Homo sapiens: one gene and its partner. The protein of the gene in region 1 interacts with the protein of each later gene in a biochemical or structural test. Each region holds a gene or a part of one and is shown on either strand. Other genes may lie near its edges.

Region 1 (4,249 bases):
CCTAGGTAACCATTTGATATGCAGGAAGCCCCATAATTCATTCCTGGCTATGGTCTTTATGGAGTAACTTCTACTGGTCACTTAGTACTGAAAGACAGTGTTGAAGGACACTTCTGGAGGAAGCCAGCTGCTGTCATCTTTGAGGGGTCTGTTTCTACAAAGAACTTGAACCCGCTGGGGCAAGTGCATTCCAGTCACTGAACCTGGCAGCAGATCCATGGATCTCAATGATCTTTAGTTTTTGCTCCTCAAATTGGAATAATGATAGAATGAGAGTACTAAAACCCCCACAACTGGCCCTACATGAATGGCCAGCTATCTCAAAAGAGGGACTGTGCTTGTCAGAGGGAATCCCTTCAGGGGACTCTTGGACAGGTTAAAGTGCCATGGATATGTTGTGTAATGGGAAGTGTAAACTTACAGGGACTTGATTTCAAAGGTCATTAGAGAAGTTAGTCACAACTTCTAAAGCAACTATCAGAAAACAGCTTGGACTCACTCAAGTAAACAGGGGCTTTATTGGCTTATAGACCTGGGCAGTCCAGGTGTAGATCTGGTTCCAGACAAGGCTGATTCAGAGACTCCACGTGGTCAAGGCTCTGTTGTTTGTCAATCCCTTGGCTCCTCCACTTCCAGTTTGGCTTCTGTCCTCACAGTCTCTCTCCATGTGGCAAACAAGATGGCTACTGGTGGTCCCAGGTTCACGTCCTCTCAGCTTGGAAATCCAGCAGCAAGAAGATGTCTCACTCCCAAAGTCCATAACTCAATCCTTGGGAAGACTGTAGTTGGTCCTGCTAGGAACACGTAACTATCCAACTATCCTCCAGATAGGGAGCTGGGGAGATGGGAGATGGGCTCCTCTGACAGGACACCCTGTGGTTCACGTCCACTCTTGTGGCCTGGGTATATTGGGAATGCGGGGATGAAGAAAGAATTCACAGCCCCACAAGGTTCGTGTGGAAAAGGGGAGGAGTTTCCCAGAAGAGCCATAAAATTAAGAAAGCACTGCAAGCAAACAAAAACCAGTCATTTAAGTTCTTGGCAGTAACAACATATTTATACCTAGTGCTTCATTTTGCTCTGGAAAAAAAGCAGATCTGCTCTGCTGGGGCAATTCTAATGGCCTTTCCAGTGTGCTTTGAGAAAGTGGAGGGACTGCGTGGTATTGCTGGGCTTCCCATTTCAGGAGACCTGGGCCCAGCAGTTCTATGACATGATGATGAGCACTCTGGACCCAAACCAGACACCTGGCCAGTGTCCTGATTCTGAGACTGAAGAGCCCTGTGAATGTGGGCAATGCCCTCCTGCTTTCTGGGGGTCATGGGTGGGGAATTAAATAGAAGATCAGCGCTTCCTTCTCAGCTCTTGCCTTATGAGTTTTTTATAACATCATTTCTCCTTTCTGGGTGTTAGTTTTCTCATCTATGTGAGGTAAGAAATTATCTCCAAGATCTGTCCAACTTGAAATAAAAATGAAAACAAAACACCTCAAATTCTGATTCTTTTGGACCGTTTCCCAGCATAGTTAACGAGCTCCCAGACCAGACACTTTACCTCCATTCTCAGGCGCTGAGGAGGGTGGAGCAGGCCTGCAATGCATATAGGGGAACAAAGGCCCAGAGACAGAGACGTGGGAACCATGCAGTGTAAAAAAGCGGGAGGTACCAGAGACAGAGACGTGGGGCCCATGCGGTGTAAAAAACCGGGAGGTACCTTCAGGACCCACAGCTGGGCCTCAGGGCCACAGCTGGGGTTTGGTGAACACTTCGCCTTGCACTTCATACTTCAGTGCCCGCCAGTTCAGGACATTAGGACTGAAGGGCCCGCCAAGATAGATGGTGTTAATCTCATCTGGTGACAGCACAAAGTCCCACATGTTCACATTTCCAATGTCTCCCACCAGGGACTGGCTTCCTTCAAAGTTCCCACCGAAGGAATCCTGCTCCTGCCCCAAGATGATGCTTGCTTCTGCCCCCACAGTGTATCCCTTCTTCAGACTCTTCCTCACCCTGGGCTTCCCATCTACCCAGAACTCCACGATCCCTGAGGCGGACTCCCAGCTTGTACAAATGTGTACTGGAGCTACTGTGACTTCAGGAACCTCGAATAATATTTCAGACCCACCCACTGTAAAACTGTATCCTATATCCTTAGACCAAAATATGAGAATCTCATTGTCTTGTCTCTTGGTGGCATACGAGAAAATACTGTACCCACGGGTCGAGGACAGTTCCGTGTAGAAGTGGAGGCACACAGTGAAGGCTTTGAGAGGCTTCGTTAACGGTGCTTTGAGGGATACATAGGAAGTATCCGACTCTTTGGGAAACACAAAAGCCTTCCTCGACATGTCTGTGAGCCAGAAAAACAAGCAAATGTGAGAGGTTTCTCAGATCACACAGATCTATCCCCTCACTTACGTATAGAATTTAAGATTGAGAAACAGACTGACCCCTTCTCCAGTTACACACCACACACACACACACACACACACACACACACACACACACCATGAAGGATGCTCCACTGTTCTGTTCATACAGTCTTTTTTTTTTTTTTTTGAGACTGTTCATGCAGTCTTAGACCCCACCCCCATACCTCAGATCAAATCTCTCCCATAGCCTGGGGTGGCCCTTACCTGTCTGGCCAAAAGCATGAGAGAGGCTGGTCAAGACCAAGAAACACAACAGCTTCTCCATGGTCACGTCCTGCTGCCAGTGATACAAGGGCCTGAATTCACTCCTTTGGAAAAGATGTATTCGGCTGAAAGTTCAGGGGCTAGAAGTCCTAGATCTCTTGCCTTAGAGCTACCTCCTCCTGCCTGGATTTATATCCAAAGCAGTAAGGGAGTTTGCGCCACTATGTAAATAATTTTCCAACATTGCTTGTTGGGGCAGGTGTCAGAGCTTCGGGAAGAGGGGAAGCAAAATTATTTCAGAACAGAGAAATCAATGTGAGTTATTTATTACAAACTCCTATGACTACTGAATTACCAATTCTTTATGACAGGAAAAATGAAGAAATCTCTCAGGGCTCCACTTTGGCTATCTATCCTGCGAAAATAATGGGAAATGGTAACATATTAAACGAGTGGCCATCTGGGTGCACGTGGTAGCTGCCTCTCCAACACCTACTTCAGCCCAAATCATAGAGTTTGACAAAGGAAATCTGACAGCTTCTGGAGATGGACATTATCACTAACCCCTTTCAATTTGCTTATTTACAGACTGGGAAATGAGGAAAACAAACATGCTCCTCCCAGAGCCATGGACACATTTTTTTATTATTATTATACTTTAAGTTTTAGGGTACATGTGCACAATGTGCAGGTTAGTTACATATGTATACATGTGCCATGCTGGTGTGCTGCACCCATTAACTCATCATTTAGCATTAGGTATATCTTCTAATGCTATCCCTCCCCCCTCCCCCCACCCCACAACAGTCCCCAGAGTGTGATGTTCCCCTTCCTGTGTCCAAGTATTCTCATTGTTCAATTCCCATCTATGAGTGAGAACACGCGGTGTTTGGTTTTTTGCATGGACACATTTTCTCAGCCAATTGAGTACACTTATTAAGAACTCTCTAGACATCTTGGCACTAAATGACGGCCCTGACAGTAAAAGTCCAGTAAAATGTGTGCCTGATCACAGACATAGCATTATATCAAAGTTTCTTCCAACATTTTTCTCTGAATATGTAAAGCTTCAGGCAGGAGTCAGGATAATCTGATTCTACTCTTTCCTCTATTCACAAGATTCAAGTAATCCCTCCACACTGTCTGTCAATCTTACTACAGTTCCCTACTTAACTCACTCTTCAAAATGACTATTATACTCCTTCTCCTTGCTCCTCAAGTCCCCAAAATCTCATTTATTCTTTCATTCAGCTGATGAACTCACCTTTCATTGAGAAGTTAGAAGCAATCAGAAAAGAACCACCGTATCCTTTGTAGTAGAGTCTTCTAGCCATTCCCTAACATCCATTCTCTACTTCTCATAAGAGAAGAATAACATTTTCAGTTGGGCGCTTGGTCATCCCCTCAAACACCAAATTTCCCAGCCCCCACTGTAGCTTGCAGTGATGATGTGATTAAATTAAGGCCAACGAGATATGAACAGAATAGGGACCATCTCTAGGTTGTGCTCTTTAAGAAAGGTATGTGCTTTCCCCTCCCACTTCCCCCTTTTTCCCTTTGACTAGTATTCAGTCATGATAGCAGGAGATGGAATAGTTCACTTTCAGGCCAGCA
Region 2 (3,500 bases), about 37 Mb from region 1:
TAGCCGGAGTGGCGGCACACACCTGCAATCCCAGCTACTCAGGAGACTGAGGCAGGAGAATAACTTGAACCTGGGAGGCAGAGGTTGCAGTGAGCCGAGATGGTGCCACTGTACTCTAGCCTTGGTGACAGAACAAGACTGTTAAAAAAAAAAAAAAAAAAAAGAAAAGAAAGAAAAATTAAAATGATTTCCTTTAATATATGTCCCTTTCTTCTTCAGACTAAATAGCCTGCAATCATAAGAAAATGTAAGAGTATCTCAGGAGGTTACACAGTGCAGGGAGATTTAGATTTTCCAATATGGAGGAGACACTCAGCAGAAAACTGTGCATCCATGCTTGAGGGACTGGGTCAGAGAAGCTGTCATGCGTCACCCAACAAGCCTCTGGAGCCAGTTCTGTAACTAGCAAACACTTCCCACAAAGTAAAGATGTCACTTCTCTGAACTTAGTCTTCTCATCTGCACACTAAAGCTGTTGTGCCGCTAGCCTCCTTCCCGTTCTCTCTGATTTATGATGATTCAAACTTAAAGATTTTTCCTTAGTGATATTCTTAAGTTTTCCCAATAAATAGGCTGTAAATATTATTTTCTATCACTTGTTCCAGAATTATAGAAGAAACATAAATTATATGCTATTTAAATTATGGTATTGGTCAACATTCTATATGTCTACATACATATAGAATGTAAGAATATATATATATTTGAACATTCGTGTATGCACCTATTTTTTTATGTCAATAATATATCTCATCCGATACATGAATTCTAACTATGGTAAGAATGCATGCCATCGAATACAAACAAAATGCCACAAAACTCAAGAAAATGTTTTATTTCTGGAGATAATTGGTACATTTCTGATTTTTTTTAATGTTTAGAGTCATATTTCTTGTTTCTCTTTTCCAAAAAACAATTATTGGTAATGTGTGCACCCTGAACTGACAGCTTTAGCATAACTTGGTATAGTTCTAGATAAGCTCAGTTCAAATTAATGTTGATAAAACCTCCAGAATTGCTAAAGAGACCATACTACATTAGTAGAAGTAGAGAAAGTAGAATGAGGTTCTTCTTGTCCTGTTAGCTGATTTGGGATCCATTAAGGATTTTAAGTGTAGAAATAAAATGACCAGATGAAGGGTTATTAATTTATACCCAGGAAAACAGATTATACAGATGAGAGGTCAGGATCAGGAAACTAGTTATGGTTGCTGTAATTCCACAAGAAAATGTTTGAGAGAAGGTGATATCAAAATTTATCTCTAATATGATTTATTACAGTAAAAATTATTTATACTTTTTTGTTTGTTTTTTATTGCAAGTGAAACCTTGTGATTTTCCAGACATTAAACATGGAGGTCTATTTCATGAGAATATGCGTAGACCATACTTTCCAGTAGCTGTAGGAAAATATTACTCCTATTACTGTGATGAACATTTTGAGACTCCTTCAGGAAGTTACTGGGATTACATTCATTGCACACAAAATGGGTGGTCACCAGCAGTACCATGTCTCAGTAAGTAATCCTCTGAACTGCTACACATGTATAAAACTTTAAAAGATTAAAGAGAGGAGAGCACATAATTGATTACTCTTGTCTTATGTAACAGAAATAGGGCCAAGAAATGAGTTGTTCAAGCAAAATGACCAAAATAGATCTTTTCTATTATGAGGAGTTCTTGAAAATCATATGAAAAATAAATATAGAGACTTTATGAGAATATCTATATAGTTTATACATATTTTAATTATGAAAACTAAAGAGAAGTAATATTAAATATTGACATTTCCTCTTGTACAACCTTTGTTAGTAATTTTGGTTCATACTAAGTTGTACATTATTTTTGGATGTTTATGCGATCTTATTTAAATATGGTAACAATAATTTTAATATACTTTTTGTGCAAATTTATGTTTCTCATTTACTTTATTTATTTATCATTGCTATGTCCTTAGGAAAATGTTATTTTCCTTATTTGGAAAATGGATATAATCAAAATTATGGAAGAAAGTTTGTACAGGGTAACTCTACAGAAGTTGCCTGCCATCCTGGCTACGGTCTTCCAAAAGCGCAGACCACAGTTACATGTACGGAGAAAGGCTGGTCTCCTACTCCCAGATGCATCCGTGTCAGTAAGTACACCGCTCTGAGATCCCAGCATGTTCATGTCTTTCTAAGTAACACGGACGACAGTCTCAGACTTGTCTATATTAACTGTGGCAAAATGTTTTTGTCAACTTGTTTTGCCAACGGACCTATTTAGTTTTACTTTTTTAATTGTGTGAATATACAAATTTCTTGATAAGTACATAGCAAAATAAATGCTCCTATTAATGGGCATTAGTCAAGAATACAGTAAAAGAATTAGAACACAATACTTGTTGGCTAAATAAAGTCATATTGAAGCGGCATTAATGTCTCGGGTAAATACCCGAGGTTCGTCATCTTGCACCAAGAAGATTAAGTACAAATGGGTATTCTGGGATCTTGTACATATTCTACTCTAGAAGGTTTCCTACAGTATTTATTCAAATATACATTTATATAAACAGTTCCTTCTTTTTTCACATGTTGCTAATGATTGGTGATGTCACATTTTAATATTTACAAGTTGAGTGGCTATAAAATGGTATAGCATTGTAATGTAAATTTGCATTTCTTTTACTACCAGCTGGATTTAGAATACATGTTCACAGTTTAATTGGTATTTAATGATTCTAAAATTTGGAAATGCAGTTTGATTTCTTTTATTTATCTTTTTGGGAGTTTTGGTTGTTATTAGTTGGAATCATCTTAATAATTCTGAAGGTAAAATCTCTTTTAATTATATGTAATGCAAATGCATTCTCTTTGTGGCTAGTATTGTTCTTTCCTTTTTTCTGCATTATGAACAAGTTGCTCATTTTACTAAATAATTGTCAATCTTTTTTCATGATGAATGTTTTTTGGTTCTTTTTTTATATTTTATTATTATTATATTTTAAGTTTTAGGGTACATGTGCACAATGTGCAGGTTAGTTACATATGTATACATGTGCCATGCTGGTGTGCTGCACCCATTAACTCATCATTTAGCATTAGGTATATCTCCTAATACTATCCCTCCCCCCTCCCCCCACCCCACAACAGTCCCCAGAGTGTGATGTTCCCCTTCCTGTGTCCATGTGTTCTCGTTGTTCAGTTCCCACCTATGAGTGAGAACACGTGGTGTTTGGTGTTTTGTCCTTGTGATAGTTTACTGAGAATGGTGATTTCCAGTTTCATCCATGTCCCTACAAAGAACATGAACTCATCATTTTTTATGGCTGCATAGAATTCCATGGTGTATATGTGCCACATTTTCTTAATCCAGTCTATCATTGTTGGACATTTGGGTTGGTTCCAAGTCTTTGCTATTGTGAATAATGCCGCAATAAGCATACGTGTGCATGTGTCTTTATAGCAGCATGATTTATAGTCCTTTGGGTATATACCCATTAATGGGATGGCTGGGTCAAA

The links. The genes of interacting proteins can lie anywhere in the genome.
Region 2: the proteins of CRP (region 1) and CFHR3 form a complex in vitro, tested with the Homo sapiens proteins (2 studies listed by IntAct, with this or other methods).

What each region holds. Positions count from the first base shown.
Region 1 is NC_000001.11:159,711,790-159,716,038, forward strand, and holds CRP (C-reactive protein isoform 1 precursor), read right to left. Parts: upstream 2,801-4,249; 5' UTR 2,697-2,800; coding exon 2,636-2,696; intron 2,350-2,635; coding exon 1,736-2,349; 3' UTR 500-1,735; downstream 1-499. UniProt on the Homo sapiens protein: Displays several functions associated with host defense: it promotes agglutination, bacterial capsular swelling, phagocytosis and complement fixation through its calcium-dependent binding to phosphorylcholine.
Region 2 is NC_000001.11:196,777,840-196,781,339, forward strand, and holds part of CFHR3 (complement factor H-related protein 3 isoform 1 precursor), read left to right. Parts: intron 1-1,322; coding exon 1,323-1,517; intron 1,518-1,957; coding exon 1,958-2,134; intron 2,135-3,500. UniProt on the Homo sapiens protein: Might be involved in complement regulation.